Linked DNA regions of Homo sapiens: region 1 is linked to region 2. The links come from fine-mapping of genetic effects on gene expression. Tissue or cell type: whole blood. Region 2 holds a variant in brackets; the other region holds the start of a gene. All regions are shown on one strand. Distances are between the middles of the regions.

Evidence for each region. PIP is the estimated chance that this variant, and not a neighbour inherited with it, causes the effect.
Region 1: KCNH2 starts here. The variant in region 2 is fine-mapped to the expression of KCNH2 in whole blood (INTERVAL, PIP 0.95).

The regions. Positions count from the first base shown.
Region 1 is chr7:150,972,152-150,981,479 of GRCh38, forward strand. KCNH2 (potassium voltage-gated channel subfamily H member 2) reads right to left here and starts at 6,170. Exons shown (of 15, transcript NM_000238.4): 1 at 5,687-6,170; 2 at 2,560-2,790. The coding sequence starts at 5,762. It overlaps LOC124901776 (a long non-coding RNA gene), which reads left to right and starts at 3,167. Exons shown (of 3, transcript XR_007060592.1): 1 at 3,167-3,324; 2 at 4,385-4,560; 3 at 4,694-5,204. RefSeq lists enhancers at 1-403, 3,542-4,468 and silencers at 2,305-2,374, 2,475-2,524, 2,915-3,064, 6,838-7,187.
Region 2 is chr7:150,949,378-150,958,046 of GRCh38, forward strand. KCNH2 (potassium voltage-gated channel subfamily H member 2) reads right to left here. Exons shown (of 15, transcript NM_000238.4): 5 at 7,914-8,125; 6 at 3,048-3,476; 7 at 2,071-2,458; 8 at 1,544-1,743; 9 at 791-1,043. Among named protein-coding and RNA genes, the nearest start is that of KCNH2, 25 kb to the right of the region's middle. RefSeq lists enhancers at 1-248, 4,963-5,561, 8,366-8,669. The variant C/A (reference allele first, on the strand shown) is at 4,301.

The DNA.
Region 1 (9,328 bases), 23 kb after region 2:
TGGGGCTGTCTGGCTCCAGGCCCTGACACTGCGCAGAGCAAGGCTAGAGGCACCAACACAGCACAGCTGTCCACGGCGGCGCCTGCCAGCAGAAGGCTCCACCTCCTGCCCAGCTCCCCCTACCCGAGGCTGGCCCAGGCAGAGACCCTGAGAAAGGCCTGGACAGAAACAAGGGGTGGCGCAGGCATTCCTCACCTCCGCCTCCCTACCAGGCCCATGTGTGAGTACACACACAGGCACGCACACACGCAGCCCAAGCCAGGTCCCGGGGATCACAGGAGGGACTGAGTGTTTCAAGGCAGAAGAAGCGGAGGCTGAGGAAATCTGTCTGCATCACCCCAGGCCTAGAATGCCAGGATACATGGGGTCCTAGGTGGCTGAGTGCCAGGCCAGCCTGTTGGCCAACAGGAGACACCTGAGCCCCGTGGAAACTAGGTGAGAGTGAAGAAGGGGACAGACAGAGATTGCTGGCACAGAGTTTTCTGGGTCACAGCCCCATTTTTTGGAGTTGTAACCTGGAGAGGGGACAAGTTTGAACTTGGGCTGGGGATCTGGGTTCTAATCCCACTCCTTCCACTGATTCACTGGTCATCAGACCTCTGCTTCTCCGTCCTTCCACCTGCAAGTCGAATGGGTTGGATTAGGTGATCCCACAATAACTCCTCTGCAGAAGGGGGCCCATAGCCATCCTCTCCAGAAGGGGCCAGCCTAGACTGGGAGGGAGGGCCAGCTCCACCTAAGAGCACTCCACACATACCACAGCCAAAGGAAAGAGCCCTCAGCCGCTGCTGCCAAGAGGCCAAATCCCCAGCACAGCTACATCGTAGTGGGACTGGCACCGTGTTTACAGAGCACGGCCCGTTGCAGGCACTCTCTATGAAAGCTCAGCACCCTTGTGAAGGTCCAAAGCAAGGCACGTTATCCCAGAAGTAGAAACAGGCCCAGGGAAGTCAACCAACTTGTCCAGTAGTGTATAATTTCCAGCATTGTCTTAGACACAAACCCAGGACTTATGGGTTCATATTCTTTTCAGTACACCTGTGGTTGGCAAACTTTTACAATAAAATTTCACATGAGATAATGTACAGCATACAGATAGACCTGCAACTACCTGGTGTCATTTTCAATATATGACAGACAGAACAGAGCGCACAGGGCTCCGGTCAGACAGATGTGGGCTCCGTTCCCAACTGCTATTTTCTAGCTGTGTGACTGTGTGAACTTCAGTTTCTTCATCCCCCAAAATGAAGACAACAGTAGTGTCTACCTCCCTGGGTTGTGAAGAGTGCCTGAGATAAGAGAAGTAAAGCATTTGGCCCAGTGTCTAGCCCCTAGAAACCATCCACTGCCTTCAGGGTTTGAGTCTAGTCTCACAGCCCCTGCCTCCTGCCAGTTAGAACCCTGATTTGCTGTGAGCGAACCTTCTTCCACAGGGTGCAGGGACCATGCCCCCTCTAGTGCCGTCCAGTGATGCCACAGACTGTGCACGCCTGCAAAAGCACAGCCTGGAGGATGCAAAGCTTTGCAGGGCCACCCCAGCCAACCCTGAGCACACAGGGCTGGCACATGGGGCTGGCTGGCCTGGTCCCAAACAGAAAGCAGAGCGTGCTCACTGTCTACAGCAGACAAGCTCCCTGAGGGCAGGAGCCTCATCTGTCCTGCCCATCTCCAAGAGCCTAGTGCCTGCCAGGCTCACAAGGGTTGAGTCAATGCTTATGGGACACACGCTAGGAAGCAGCAAGGTTTGCACGCGTTCCAGAGCCGCCTCTGCAGCCGGATTCTGCCCACAGGACCCCAGTCCTCCTGCTCTGCCCGCCCTGACCAGAGCCCACCCCAACAGGGCATTCACGGTGTGGGAGCAGCCCCACCCCGGGCTCTGTTTATCCGCTCTCCGGAAGCCCAGAGCAGCTGTGCTGGGAGGCGGTGGCTGAGTAAAGACACCTGGCGCAGGAGAGGGTGGCAGGGCGGGGCGCTCGACAGCTGAGACAAAGGGAACTGAGGTTGCGGGGAGAGGCACGCACCTCCCCCAGGTGCTGCTGAAGCGCAGGGCAGGAGGGGGGCAGCAGAGACAGCCAGAGTCCTGCAGCCCTCCTGTCCCTCCATGACATCTCCCAGACCTGTCACCTGGCAGCAACTGCCCTAAGGTAGATAGGGGCCTGTGCCCGGATGTCAGCGCACAACTGCCAATCTGACCTTTAACCTCCATCCACGCACGTACCTGCCATCCCAGCTCGGTCTAACTCTAGTCCAACTTGCTCTACGTGCCCACACCTGCCCAGGGAAAAAAAGGACCAGAGGAGCCAGACCCACAGCCTAGCAACTCCTTTGCCCTCCTGAAAACCATCTCAGCAGAGTGAGGCGCAGGCCCCGGAACCGCGCCTCCCACAGGCACACCGCAGGGCCCCCGCCCGCGTCACACCCCCACAGAACCCTGCCCGGGCTCGGGGCGTTCTCCAGCCGCCCCCACACCCCCACACCCCCACGCACCCTGCCCCTCGCCGTGGTCCCGCCCCTCTTGACCCCGCCCCTGGTCGTGGCCCCGCCCCGGCCCGCTCCTACCATCTTTCCGGTAGAAGGCGATTTCCACTTTGCGCTCCTCGGCGCCCAGCAGTGCCTGCGCGATCTGCGCGGCAGCGCGGCGCTGCGTGCGCGGCCCGTGCAGGAAGTCGCAGGTGCAGGGTCGCTGCATCACCTCGGCCCGCGAGTAGCCGCACAGCTCGCAGAAGCCGTCGTTGCAGTAGATGACGGCGCAGTTCTCCACCCGAGCGTTGGCGATGATGAACTTACGGCCTAGGGGGGCGGGGAGGAGAGTGCGCGTGAGCGGGGACCCCAGCCTCCGGGACTCCCAGCCCTTCCCCACATTCTCCACTCACACAGCCGCCCGGGGACTCCCCGCCACAGGAAGCATGGCTGGGACTGGGGTCCCAGCAGGGGGCGAACGCAGCTGTGCGTGTGCCCCGATACAGGTGCCTGGCCGGCCGGGCCGCGCGGCGCGCCCCCTCCTCCGCCTGGCCCGCGGGCGGGCTGCGTGGCTTCCCCCGGGCAGGCCGCCAGCAGCCCGCCGCCTCCTCCATGCCCGAGGCTGAGGCCAGCCTGGCGGGTGTCAGCAACGCGTGTCAGCAGCCGCGGCGGAGGGATAAACACTGGGCCTAGAAAGGGAGCCTGGGAAAGGCCAGAGATGGCGGCCAGGATTCCCTTTGCATCGGCTCTCTGGATTCTGCTTTTAATTTCCCTGCTCTCCAGACTGGGGGGCGCTCCCTGAGCCACTCCTTATCCTGAGGCTCCCTAGGAAATCACTCCCCGATTATCTGAGGATCCTACCAGGTCAGTACCCCCTAGAACTTCTGCACACCACCCCCGCCCCAAGGGCAGTCAGGAGCTGAGGGGTGGGTGTGCCAGAGAGGATGAGGGAAGTTACACGTTGAACACCTAAGGACGCTGCATCTCATTAGGTCCTCTGACAACCCCATAAGGTAGGTGTTATTATCCTCCTTTTATAGATGAAGAAACCAAGGCTCCAGAGAAGTTCGGCACCATGCCCAAGTCTTGCAGCTTGTAAATGATAGAGCCAGCTTTTGAACCTTGGTCTGGCAGAGGCAGAAGAATAAGCTGAGGGTCACAGGCAGAAGCCCAAGGTCATAGGAAGCAAAGAGAGGGACCTGCAGCTCCAAACCCTGGACACACCTGGAGCCTGGGCGGGGCCTGAGACTTTGGCCCCACTTGTAGGAAAACAGACCCAAGAAAGGGGACCTGCCCAGGGATGTGAGGCCTTCCTCAGTTTGGCCTCATCCTGGATGAGCACCCCCATGGTTCCATTTCTGCCAGACTTGGCTCCCTGACTCCAGGCCTGCCCGGAGAGCCAGGCTGGCGAGTGAGCAGCAGGCAGGCAGCAGCCTCACTTGTGCCAGGCAAGATGCTCCTGGGATAAGAGCTTTTTATAAACAGAAGTTTCCGGCCACTTTGGCCTGTAATGCTGGGGCTTTCAGTAGCAGTTGGAATTCTCCCCCTCCCTTCCCCTCCCCTCCCCAGCAAGCATAGCCCTCAGGTTGCAGCCCTAGGCAATCCTACGTGCAAAGCTGGGCTGCAGCAGGGCACCCTGAGATAGGCCCAGGCCATCAGGACTTGGCCTCCTCCCACCTTTCTCGATTCTCCCTTCCCCTGGCCCCCAGAAAGTTGCCTTTTGGAACTGGTTCATCTTTTGGCCAGTTCCCAAGGCCCCCCAGACCTCCCAGGCAGCCATCAATTCCAGGAGTCAGGGTTTCCTGTCACCTGAAAAGACCCCCTAACTCGGCCTCCAGCTCTGCCACAGTCCAAGGCAGTCCAGAGGCCCAGCCACACACCCCAGCTTCATAGAAGAAAAACCACCCCTTGTCCTCTCTCCCAGGCTGGGGAAAGAAGAGCAAGTTTCTTCGAAGGCATGCCCCACCCCACCACACACCCTTCACTGAGATCCTGGAATACAGGGATGGGACAGAAAGCCTGCCCCTCCTCCACAGACCTGGAACCTGAGACCCAAAGAGGGAAGAGTCACTCAAGGTCACATGGCAGTCAGTGGCAAAGGTAGGGCTAGAATCCAGCACCCCCCCCCACATCCATCCCAGCCTCCTCGTAGGCCCGCCCACAGCCTCCCCCTGGGCCCACCCCCACCTCTCAGGGAGGCCCTCAACCAGTGTCATTGTCTCCACCCCCTCAGGATCATCTTGTTCCTCCGCTTCACACAATACTGACCATCGGACTGACCCCTCCTTCCCCCAACCACCGTTACAAGCACGCGTTGTCCTGTGCTCACAGGGTCATGGACAAGGAATGTCATCCTCTCCCAACTCCCAGGGCCCTTGGCAGTCACACCCACTGTGGCTCATGCAGCCTTAGGGACAGGCACATGAATGCTGCCCACCCCCAGGACATTTGCCTAATCTGGGACCCTTCTAGAAGCCTCCCTACCAGGCAGGCATTAGGGGTGCTGTACTCCCGGTCCCCATAAGGGAATTAGGTGACAGTCTCCAGGGCAAGAAAACCCACAACTTGGGGGTACCACAGGGAGCTGCTTACCCTCAAAGCCCAGCTCTAGCCCCAGGACACCCTGTCTCCACAGAGCCCACAAGCTCGCAGCCTTGTCAAAGACACCTCCCCACCGCCCATACAGGGTCTAACTCACGGGTGACACATGGGCTCAGGGTTATATACACACGGCACACACAAGAAGAGATTATGAGCTGACCCTGCATCCACGGCTTTTCAGTCCCTCCGGCACAACACAGTCAAGATCTGGCAAGACCAGTGTGCGCGCTGGACTCTCGGGATCCCAGGGTTTGGGTCGTACACACTCTTATGCCCTTGCACACAGCCCCATCCACGTCCACGCACCCAGAGTTGGGGACACCTGCACACTCCATCCCACATCCCTTCCCTGCACACTCAGCGTGTCACACACACTCCGATCCCAAAAGCCTGAGCTGAGTTTCCCGCCCCAAGCCCCAACCCCAAACCCTTTGGCCCGGTGCCCACGGCCCCGGTGCACCAAGCCTTGCCCCCGCCGTCCCCTCGCCAAAGCCTGGGGCCCACCAGGCCCCATTGACTCGCACTTGCCGACGCACACGGCCCGGGCACGCCCCCCCATCCACACTCGGAAGAGCTCGGCCCGCCCCCAGAGCCCCCTCCCCGCTCAGCCCCCTCCCCCACTCACTCTGGCCCTCAAACTTGCGGATGATGGTGTCCAGGAAGGTGTTCTGCGGCGCGACGTGGCCCCTCCGCACCGGCATCCTGAGCCCATGGGCGGGCCGGGCGGGCCCCCACCCACCCCGGCCCGGCCCGGCCCAGCACTAGGCTTCGGGTGGCCCGGCCGGGCCGTGGTCCCCGCACCCCGCGGCCAAGCCGAGCACGGGCGCGGCCAAGACTGGACTGCGGGCGCCGGGTCCTCGCTCGGCTCCCGGCTCCCCGCTCCGGACCCCGGGCCCGGCCTGGAGCCGCCTGAGCGCGAGCCGCCCGCCGCCGGCACACCTGTCTGCCGGCCCCCGCCGAGCCGCGGGGCCCGCTCCGCCGCGTCCCCGCGCTGCGCTCCGCCCGCCCGAGCCCCGGACTCCTGGCTCCCGCCTGCCACCGCGCCGACAGCCGCTCCAGCGCCCGCGGCTCGGGCAGCGCCTGCGGCTCGGCCCGGCCGCGGAAGGGTTAATGCGGCGCGCGCCCCTCCGGCTCCGGCCCCCGCCTCCCGGCCCCCTCCCGCCTGCCGCGCGCCCGCAGCACCGCCCTCTCCCCCCCCCATCCCGCCCCACCGCGCGCGCCCGACCTTCCCATTGGCTGAGCCGCGCCGAGTGCTCCCCCAACGCCAGCCCCTCGCTCTGCCAAGGAGCCCCTGGGACTCGCGCGCCCAGAAGAGGGGGAAGGGACCCTTAGGCAGGGGAAACCGTGAGGACAGGTGCCATGGCCGGCTTGTAGGCGGCCGGGATGGGGGAAGGGATTCCACCCCCACCCCAGATTAGCGACTAAGAAACCTGATTTGAAGGGAAACGGCGGGTCCTTATGCCCTGGTTCCCCACCACGCCGAGCACTGGCTTGGTATACACAGCACGCGCTCAGTGCCTACTGTGGGTGACCGGGGCAACGCCTGGACCCTCGAAGACGAGCCCGGAGTCAAGGGAGACCCTGGAAATAGGAAAAGCAAGACAATCTGAAGGCCCCAGAGCAGCAGAGCTCTGAAATAAGGGAGGGTTAAACTTAGAAGGGGCACGCCCCCTGCCCCAACACACACACACACACACACACACACACACACACACACATACACACACACACACACACACACACACACACACACATACACACACACACACGGAGAGAGAGAGAGCCCTCTGTGGGGCTCTGCATAGGAGCTGCACAGAGAGGGACATTCTGACAGCAGTTGCGGCCTCCTAGCTGCAGGATCAAAGAGAGGTCCCTGAGCGCGAGGTTCCAACCAGGGGATCCCCGGGTGCGAGCGGCCCGCCCTCCCCCGGCAGCCCGGGGCCAGCCTTGCACGCCCAATCGGCGGGCTCGGGGCCCTGCGGCGGCGGCCACGGCCCAGCCCCTCGGAAAGCCCTGGCCTAGCCGCAGGCCCCTCCCCCCGGCCAGCTGGCTCGCTCCAGCTGCGGCTCCCTTATTTAGGCAAGGAGGCCTAGGGATGCTCAAGGGCAGGCGGGGTGTCTGCCCCGCCGCCTGCTCATCGCCTGCTTGCGTCTGAGTGAGGGTCTCCGGGCGCGGTGTCCTCGGACTTAGCAGTCAGGCAGGGCCCCGGGAAGGCCAGGGCGGGGAGGCGAGTGTTGACAGCTGAGTGGGCGGGCGGGGAGGGAGGAGTCGCAGCTGAACAGCCGAGGGTCCCCTCCCTGCAGCCGGATCAGAGACCTGTCTAGATGGATGGGGCCATGTGGGGGCTCCTGAGGGCTTGCAGCTGCCTCTGTCCTTGGAGCAGGGGCTGGGTCTTGTCACCAGCGAGAACCATCATGGGGGGAGGGGAAGAACAAAGGGCAGGGAAGGAATCGGAGTCCCGAAGGAGGAAGGCGCAGAAAACTGTCGTCGTGAGACCACCCTACCCGGACTCTCACCTTCCACCCAGGAGCACAAAGATGCAAACACTGGGGCCAAATGGGGCCACTGGCCAGCAGATGACACTCTTTTTTATTTGCTGGTGGGTGGGCAGTGACTCAGGGAGGCAGCCAGTGGGAGAGAAGGAGGTGGCTCCACAGCTGATGCTAAAAAAGTCCAGAGGCTCTTGCCTGTGCAGTTATTCCTCAGGCCCTCTCCACTGCCAGCAGTTTCCTCACTCACCCCCCCGGGGGCCCAGGGCCTTCCACAGCACAAGCTCCTCCTTGGTGTAGCATTTGGCATCAGGTGCATCAACACATCTGGGTTCCGGGTAGAACCTAGTCCACGACTGGCCCAGCCCCCGCCACGCCCCAAGGCCACCCCTGGCTGCTGGGTTGCCTACCATGAATCCAGGATGATTCATGTGTGAGTGAAGTGTCCTCCTGTCCAGGCCAGGGGATGGAGAGAAAGTGAGCAAAGGCCAGCAGCTGAGAATGGGCATGGGAGGGCAAGAAGGGAAAGGGACATCTGTAGCCTCCCCCTCTCTCCAGACCAAGGGAGAGGGAGAGCCAGGCCCTGAAGGGAAGGAGCCACTCATCTGAGCTGGCCAGCTGTCCTCCACTCCTGTACCCGTGTTGCTGGGACAGGCCTCTGCTCTTATCCCAAAGGGAAGACAGGAGTCAGAGGAGCCCTTCATCCTCCCAAACAGAGAGGAGCCCAGGCACGGGGTAGCCCTCCTTCTGTGCACAGAGGCAAGAAGAGAGCTGTTCCCTCAAGCTGAGGAGAGACAGATCTCTCCCTCTCTCCCCCCAGCCCACTCCACATACTCAGAAGTCAAAGCTGAATGTAGATTTCTGACTTCCTTGGAGGCTCAGGGTAGAGCCTGAAGGCAGACCCACTTAGCCGCCCCCACACTCAAGAATTGAGCTGAGGAAGAGAAACGGTGAGAGGGGGCAAGCTCTCCCCAAAGCAACATTTCTGGGCCTCAGATGAGCTGATGGAGAAGCCCCCACTGCCTTCAACTTCCCACCTCTGCTACCCCCAGATCTGGGACAAAGAGAAAAGTGCCCAACCCTAATACCAAGAGCTGGGCTGTTAAGCCTCTAGAATCTGCCCCACCCCCATCTCAGCTCCAAGAGCCATTTCAGAGACCATTCCTGGGAAGAGCTCTCCCGCACCCTGCCTGTGACTGAGGGAACAGAGAGGCTACAGTGAGATATCCAGGCTCCTCCCAGCTCCCAAAAAGAAACAATTTAGGGAGAAAAGTCTGCAGAAAGCATCCTACCCACCCTGCTCTCTGCTCCTGCTCAGTCCGAAGGCATGGAGCCAGGACATCCTGGAAGGAGAAAGAGAAATGGAAGCCCACTCTGCCAGAGGTCCCCCAAGGAGCGGGCCAGGCAAGACACCACCAAAGTCAGGCCCAGGAGAGCCTGGGGTTACCCACAGGGGATTGGGAAGCAGTTCCAGTCGGCTGGGCACAGGAGAGACAGGTTACAGAGCAATGGTTCCTGGGAAACCCTGGGGAAGGAAGAACAGAGTGAGCAGGTCCCTTGATGCTTGAACACGGTGGGTTTTTTTTGTTTTTCTGTGCAACTGGGTCCCCAGAATAGAGATTTTTTTCAGATGTGAACTGGAGTTGGAGAAGAAAAGAATCAAAGAAACAGCATGTTTCCCCTCCAGAAGTGGATGATCAGGGCTTATTGATAGAAAGAAGGGAAGTAGGAAGGAAAGAAAGAAGGAAGAAAGGATGGAAGGAACCCGCCTGAAACCC
Region 2 (8,669 bases):
ATCAGAACACAGTAGTGAATCAAAACCAGCATTTTTTTTTTTTTTTTTTTTTTTTTACTGAAAGAACATACAGTAGTATAGCTTAGCACAGCACAGAACAGAAATGCTAGAATGAACCACATGCAGTAAGGCCCAGTGTTATGTAGTGAAACTTTGATTTTAGTTTTGTGGGGGTGTGTATTTGTGTTTGTACAGAGCTGAGAAACAAAGTCTAAAATGTCCTACCATCAACTATGGTCGAAAGAGCTTGCTATATCTGCCCTGAGGCACACAGGGCCGAGGGAAGGACAGGCAAAGGGGGAGGAAGTCCTCAGTGTCCAGACACACCAACCCACCCACTGTGCACAGGCAGGGTAGAAAGGAAGTGGGGGGAGGGGGCAGGACTCCCTTTGCTTTGGATGTGTCAAGGGGCCAGGCATGAGGCTGCAGGGAACCACATGGCCCTTAGTGAAACCAAATGCCGAGCTTCCAGGCTAGCATTTCTTCCTCTACTGCCCAGGCTAGAGGATCTAGATTTGATCCTACTTTAAGGAAGCAAAAAGTGTCTGTTTGTGGCGGATCCTGAAGGGAAGGAGAATGTGGGAACCCCAGAGTTCAGCAGCCTCACCCCACGTGGGGCTCCTCTCCATGGCCCCGCTTGGAGGGCCTGAGTTTAGGTGAATTAAAGGAGCCCAGTGACCCTGCAGGCAGTCCCAGGTCCACAGCCCCAGTGACTGCATATTCAGAAGGCTCGCACCTCTTGAGGCTGCAGAGGGCATTTCCAGTCCAGTGCCCGCCCCCCACCCCATACCCAGGATGGCCACGACGACGTCGCCCCGCAGGATCTCGATGGAGCCCCGGGAGATGAAGTACAGGGCGGTGAGCAGGTCCCCAGCATGCACCAGTGTGTCCCCTGGCGGTGCATGTGTGGTCTTGAACTTCATGGCCAGGGCCCGAAGGCAGCCCTTGGTGGCCCCTCGGAAGGGTTTGCAGTGCTGCAGCAGTGAGCGGTTCAGGTGCAGGCAGATGTCAGCCTGCAGGCACTCAGGGAAGCCCTTCAGCACCTGGGGGCAGGGTGGGGGCAGCTCAGCACACCCTCCCTTGGGACCCCCCAACCCACACTCTACTCCACCATCCCACCCCTCCATGTCAGAGAAATCTCAACCTCCAGGCCTGGGAGATCTCGGAAGCATCAGGGGGCCCAGTGTCTTGGGAAGGACCTGGGACCCCACTCCAGCTTCACCATGCCTGGCCGAGCACCCTTGGGCTCTAGACCTCCATGTTCTTATTTGTAAGGCATAGAGACCATTCCCGCCCTGGGCTGTCACAAGGATTTAACCCCATCGCCTATGTGACATATACCTCCCACCCCAAAAGGGGAGCTCTCCAGGGAAGGGGTTCCAAGGGCTTCCATTTCCTCATGGGCAAAAAGGGGCAACGTGCCTCCAGGGTCCTTACTACTGACTGTGACCGCCTGAGACTTGTTTGCTGTGCCAAGAGGTTCCCCTCTGCCACCCCACTCTTCCCAGCCTGCCACCCACTGGCCACGCTCTGGTGGCCTCACCGCGTTCATGTCGATGCCGTTGGTGTAGGACCAGGCGTGCTGGAAGTACTCCTCGAGGCGCTGGCGCAGGGGATTGGGGATCTGGTGGAAGCGGATGAACTCCCGCACCCGCAGCATCTGTGTGTGGTAGCGGGCTGTGCCCGAGTACAGCCGCTGGATGATGGCCGACACGTTGCCGAAGATGCTAGCATACATGAGGGCTGGGGGCGTGGGCACGTGGGGCCGTCAGCCTCTGCAGGGACCCCACCCACCCACAGGGACCCTGCTCAGGCCCCGCACCAGGTCAGTGTCTCAGTCTCAGCGTCGACATGCCCACGAGACGCCCTTGTACATCTGCGCTCCAGCACACCCCACCCTTCAGTAGTCCCCGCCCTGGTGACCCAGCCCCCAAACCATGTCACGATGGTGGCCCCTGGAGTCTCTAAGTTCCAGGGCCTCACTCTGGCCCGGCTAGCAGCCTCAGTTTCCTCCAACTTGGGTTCCTCCACCGTGGGCTCTCCCCGCCGCCCGCCCCTGGGCACACTCACAGCCAATGAGCATGACGCAGATGGAGAAGATCTTCTCTGAGTTGGTGTTGGGAGAGACGTTGCCGAAGCCCACACTGGTGAGGCTGCTGAAGGTGAAGTAGAGCGCCGTCACATACTTGTCCTTGATGGAGGGGCCGCCCAGGCCGCTGCTGTTGTAGGGTTTGCCTATCTGGTCGCCCAGGTTGTGCAGCCAGCCGATGCGTGAGTCCATGTGTGGCTGCTCCATGTTGCCGATGGCGTACCAGATGCAGGCTAGCCAGTGCGCGATGAGCGCAAAGGTGCACATGAGCAAGAACAGCACGGCCGCGCCGTACTCTGAGTAGCGATCCAGCTTCCGCGCCACGCGCACCAGCCGCAGCAGCCGCGCAGTCTTCAGCAGCCCGATCAGCTGGGGGACAGGGAAGGGGCACATTCCGTTGATGGGGCAAGGGGGGCAAGGGAGGAGGGGAGGTGCTGCGGCCCTCAGAGCGAGCATCAGAGGTCAGATCCCCAAAGACTTCCTAGACCCTCCTCCTAAGAGGTGAAGCCCACACTGGGCCCAGCACAGGTGTCTCATTAATCTTAGTGCTAGCTTTGGGACAGAGGCAGCCCCCATAGTGTGGATGAGGAAACAGGGGCACTGACAGGTGCAGTGATCACCCTAGGGTGCCTGCCCACTCCCACCAGCTTCTAGGGCACTTTGGTGACGCTACAAAATAATGGCCCCTTGGGATGGACGAATTAGAAAAAAAGGTGTCCTGTGTGGCCCTCTGCAACCTGCGAGGAGCTTGTGTGGAGAGAAGGAGCATAGGTTTGCTGGGGTACCCACCTTGCCTCTGCAGCTGCCTTGCCACCATGTCTCTCTCCCACTGTCTTTCTCTCTTTCTCTCTCTCTCTCTTTTTCTCTGTCCTCCTCGCCACCCCCTCCACCCCACTACCTCCCACCACATTCCTGGCCTCTCCTCTCCCTACACCACCTGCCTCCTTGCTGACCCCACCTCCTCAGAGCCAGAGCCGAAGATGAGCAGGTCGAAGGGGATGGCGGCCACCATGTCGATGAGGAACCAGCCCTTGAAGTAGTGGACGGCGATGCGGCCGGGGTGGCTGACCACCTCCTCGTTGGCATTGACGTAGGTGGTGCGGAAGTTGATGAGGATGTCCACAATGAACATGATGTCCACGATGAGGTCCACCACAGCCAGCGGCTGGCAGGCGTAGCCACACTCGGTAGCAGGCGGGCCTTCTTCCGTCTCCTTCAGCAGGAAGGCAGCCGAGTAGGGTGTGAAGACAGCCGTGTAGATGACCAGCAGCAGGATGAGCCAGTCCCACACGGCCTTGAAGGGGCTGTAATGCAGGATGGTCCAGCGGTGGATGCGCGGTGCCTGCAGCTTGTACTCAGGCAGCACGTCGGCGCCCAGGGACAGGACCTGCACCCGGGGAAGGCGGAGGTGTGGGTGAGGCAGGCCATGGGACCTCGGGGGCAGGAGCGATGACATCTCTGCCGGGGCCAAGCAGAATGAGGAGGAGGCCAAAAAAAGCTTCCATCAGAATGCCCACCCCTCAGCCAAGCGACCACAGCAAATGGCCACCCCCAGGTTTGGGCATCATGGTTCCCAAAATGCCACACAGCACAGGACTGGCTCCAAACAGTTCCAACATTTCCCGGCAGACGTGGATTCAGGCCACTCGGCAGGAACACCCAGTGCTGCTCCCCGCCGGCAATGCAGATGCAGACCTGCCACTGTGACTGCCCTGAGACGCTGGCCCACACACCCAACCACACACGCCATAGTCTCAGACCGGAAAGGGTTCCAAGGACAACAGCTCCCAACCTGGGCAGTGGCCCCAGGAGCCATAGCCCCAATCCACTGACTGGTAGTCACTGCAGTTCTTACCAGCCCCTCTTCATGCCACAGGCCCGAGGACACCAGGCAACCAGGATGGAGAAAGACCAAGACACTCCCACCCTCCACTCGCACACCTCGCTCCCTCAGCCCCCTCTCCACACAGGTCCGGGACAGCCCACAGTCCTCATCCTCCCACCCTCTTACAAAGGGACAAAGAAGACATAGCCCAGCTGGGAGGAGATGGCACCCAACTTATACAGAGGGACGTGCACACAGGGACTGCTCAGCAGTGACACACACAGCCCCTGTACCAGCTCACACTCACACTCTGCCTCCTCCACAGTCATCAGACAGAGGCAGGCTGGCCATCCGGACCCGGTGACAGCAGGCACGTCCCTCTTGCT[C/A]CCAAGGCAAACTAAGAAGAGCTCCGGCCAGCTTCTCCACACTGTCCCAGAAGCTTCTGGGTCTCCCTAGAATCCTCTCTCAGGCATGCAGCTCAACCCAAAAGCCCCCTCCCCAAGCTCTCCCTGCCATCCCTGGGCAGCCAGCTGAACCCAAGGCCTTGCCCAGCCCCCATGAATTCCAGAGGTGCTGGCCCTGCTCCCAGAAGCACTGACTCCCAGGCCCCCACACCCTCAGGCTTTTGGGTTGGGGAGGCCATAGTTGATGAGTCCCAAAGACTCCCCTTCATACTCAAGCTGGGCTTGCCCAAGACACCTTCACAGATGGCGCTGCTGGGAGAACATCTCCTTAGAGGAAATAACTAGAAGTCAAGACGGGTCATAGTCAAAGATTTGACCACCCTGGGGTGGACACAGGGCCTCCAGCGGTACCAGATGGGCTGCGGGAGCAGCTGAGGCCTAGGGCAGGGAGGGAACACATGGACAGGCTCACAGGCTCCATTTCTGCTCTGTCTGCTGTCTAAGTGCCCAGCTCCTTAAGGCAGAGAGCAAATGCCCATGGGTGGGTGGCCCTTCAGTGATCAAGTGGGGACTGAAAAAAAAAAAAGAAAACACTGGCCAGGCCCCTGCTGATAAGGGGGCAGAAGAAGGTAGCTGCCCCTGGACAGGGCTCTTCTCTGTGCCTGAGAGGTCAAGCCTCTGGGCGGAGGTGTCAGGACCACCCCTAACAGCAGTGACCCTACCCCTGAGTCTGCACACAGCATGAGCAACACTGCCCCAGGGTACAAACTCACACGTGCATGGGGCACACCTGACAGGGGCCAGTCCCAGCTCTGCAGCCACCAGCTCACCTATGGCCTTGGGCCAGGTCTGTCCCCCCAGCCTGTTGTCCTATAGAATACTGAAGCTGGCTTGCTTAAGCCAAACCCTGACTCCTCAGCTGTGGGTGGGAAGACCTACCTGTACCTGTCCCCCAGCTGGAAAGAGTGTATGAGCCAAGGCAGAATGTGCAGATGTGGGGTGGTGGGGGCAGGGATGGGATTCCCAGACTTAGCCCTGAGCCACCTCCCACTCCTCCTCCACTGTCGGCCCAAGCCTGCCCCAGGCTGACAGAAGAGCGGCTGGATGGCTCCCAGGAGGTCACAGAGTAGTGCATGGCCCAGCCACCACACCTCGGCTGCCCATGAAGAGATGAGCCAGGTGCCTCAGCCCAGCGCGCCCTCACCACCCACACAGTGGCTTCCGCACATTCCAGCCTCCTCGACCCCCCAAAACAGCACAAGCCTCCTTTGCCCACAGGGTCCAACCCCAGCACACAGAGCAAAGGAGCCCCGGCGCCTCCATGCCAGGCCCAGCTGTCGCCTGCCGGCTTCTCCTGGTCCTGCCCATGGGCTCCTTTGTCCCACTCCGCCTCCCCACCATCTCTCTGGGCACCCATCTCATTCCTGTCATCTCCCCACTTTGCATTTTGAGCTCCAGGACTGTGGGCCATGGCAGGCACAGGAGCGGGGAAGTCCCAGCAACGGAAACTCTGTAAGCCCAGCCTGGGAGGGAATGAGAACAGGAGCCAGGCGCGGGTGAGCAGGGCCAGGCCCCACGGCTCCCAAAGCTTCCTACTTCCCAGCAGCCCTCTCCCCAGCCTGGAGTCAGAGCCCTTGGGCCAGCCACCTGCCTCAGTGTGCCGGCCCCAGAAAGAAGAGGAAGGACCGGGTGTCACCTACCTCCTGGGCCACGAGGCTGGAGATGCGCACGGCCCGCCTCACCCGGCCTTTCTGGGCCCTGGGCCGCAGAGCCCCTGTCCTGCTCGCCTTCCCGGCTGGGGCCGCCATGGAGGACTTGGCTCCCTGCAGCCTGCCTGCCCTGGGGCCTGAGGGCCCGGCCACTGCCTCACCTGCACCCCAGCAGCAGTCCCAGCCCAGGCTGCACCCCCGAGGCTGGCCGACTGGCAACCAGAGCAGCCCCTGGCATGAAGCCAGGGTGGTTGTGGCTGGGCCCCAGGGCTGGGGTCACCCTGGCAGTAAGCGTGGGCAGCAGCCTGCCTGGCTCGAGCTGCCCATGGCCCCGTGGCGTGGGCCCTGCTGCCAGGGTGCCGTGCTCTGCCCGCCCGCCAGCCCAGCAGCGGCCGCACTCGGAACCTCAGCTCCTCCAGCCGGCCCCTCCTTCTACCAGGTCCCCACCCCCACCCCGCCACACTAGGCTCCCCCGCCCCGCCGGTGCCCAGCCAGCGGCCCCCTCCCCCGCAGCCCGCCCAGGCTCCTGCAGCGGCGCTCCCGCAGCCTGAGCCCCTCCCCCTCCGCCAGCAGCCGGGCCTGTCACCGCAGATTAATGGTCTCCCTGACACCCCCGCCCAGCCGGTCCAGTGCTGAGCCAGCCAGAGTCAGACAGAGACACCCAGAGATGGAGAGACTGCTAGTGACTGGCAGGAACACACACGCCTGCCGACACATACAGGCGCACATGCACAGACCCACCGCAACTCACGGGCACATGCAGCGGGCACAGGAGCAGGGCAGATGCCAGGGGCTCAGGTGGGAACCAAGAGAGAAGCAAGGGAGGAGGAAGAGAGGGGTAGGTGGCCAGATAAGGGCCTGGGGTGAGGGGGAATGCTCTGGAGTCAAGGCCAGTGGGCTGGAGACCTGGCAGGGACCCAGAAAGCCAGGCGGTGGGAGCAGGGCCAGGAGCCCGCCGAGGTAGCAGGGCAGCTCCCTTACATGAGCCAACCCAGGCAGCTGCTGTGGAAGGGGCAGGAGGGAACAGCTTGGGACAGGAGTCCTCCACATTATCCCAGGCTTCTCACTCACTGCAGAGATCTGCACTCCTGACCCACCCACCCCCAGCCCCCAAAGGCTAGGATAAGGTGTCGGGTGGATGAAGCCATGGAGGGGTCGCAGGTCCTCTTGCTGCCAGGAGGACCCCAAACCCAGGAGGGGACAGAAGACCAGGCTGGCTAATGCCCCCAAGGCTGAGGGGTCTTCTCTGGCCCAGGATTCAGGGACCTGACCCTTCCATATCTTTGTACCCACCACCTCCCTATGAGAAGAAAACTTGCTTCTCCCATGCTTTAGGGACATAGTTGGGCCCCTCGAGGCCATCCTGGCCATCCCCACAGGACTGAGGCCCACCCTCTGCCTGGCACATCACCTTGGCCTGGAAGAATTAGGACCCTCCTGTCCTTGACCTCTGTGACCCCTTCTCATTTGAAGCCTCCCAGTTGGCTTGGCCCCTAGTACTTCCTTCACACACCCTGCAGCCAGACCTTTCATGTCCCTCAGGCCGCCTTCCCCCCTTGCTACTGGCCCTGTCATGTCCCCAGCCTCAACTGCCCTGTCCTCACCCTGTGCCCCGAAGGCACGCACCCCATCCACCCGACCTCCGCTCTGCCATTCCCAGCCCTTTACCAGACCTCTCCAGTCCCCTCTCCAGGACTTCTCAGACTGTCCCCTCTCCCCCCATCGCAGCTCTGGAATAGATTGCCAACCCCAACCCTCAGGTCTGCCTCCCTCCAAGAGGCCCTCACTGGCTAGCCCCCTCCACCCGGCTCTGGATCACAGCCCACTCCCACCCCCTCTCCAAGCTCCTCCAAGGTGAGAGGAGAGCCCGGCCGCTGGGCGCCTACCTGGGTGACCTTCTCAGTGACATTGTGGGTTCGCTCCTTTATCTTAGGTGCTATGATCTCACGGTCACTGGTGGGCGAAGCCAAGAAGGGGTCGCCCTTGAGGTCCACAAAGTTGAGGGTGATTTGGGGAATCTTGCTAATGGTGCGGTAGCGCACGAGGTCGGAGTCCGAGGTGGAGTTGAGCAAGCCGCTGCGCAGTGGGTGCATGGCCCCTAGGTGGAGAGGCAGCGTGGTCAGGCCAGCAGCCCAGGGCCCCAGGCCAGGCAGGCCACCCATAGATCGAGAGTGGAGACCAGGCCCTGCACAGTCAGGAGTCCATGGGGTCAGCTCAAGAGACCAGGGGAGTCACAAGAAACAAGAGAGGTCAGACCCCTGTCCCACTCTAAGGAAGCAGCCAGGAGACAGCCCTGAGACCAGGAAGAGGAAGAGGAAACGGTCTGCTCCAGGACGCTGGCAGGCAGGGGGCCAGGTGGTGTTCGGAGGCTGGGCACGTCTCCTGCCCAGGGCATCCCTGCTCCAGGCCGTCCCGGGACAGCCAGCTCCAGGGGCCCACCAGGGCTCTGGGAGTGGAAGAATGTAATGGGATGAATGGACATTTAATAGCGCAACAAGCCACTTAATGGAATTAAATAAGTGCTTAATGGGATTTCCATCTCCCAGGCACCCAGGACGTAGTGAAAAGGTCAGAAGCCGAGGGCCCAGAATGCAGCAAGCCTGGCAGCAGAAGAAGCGTGGGCTGGGGCGGAACGGGTCCCG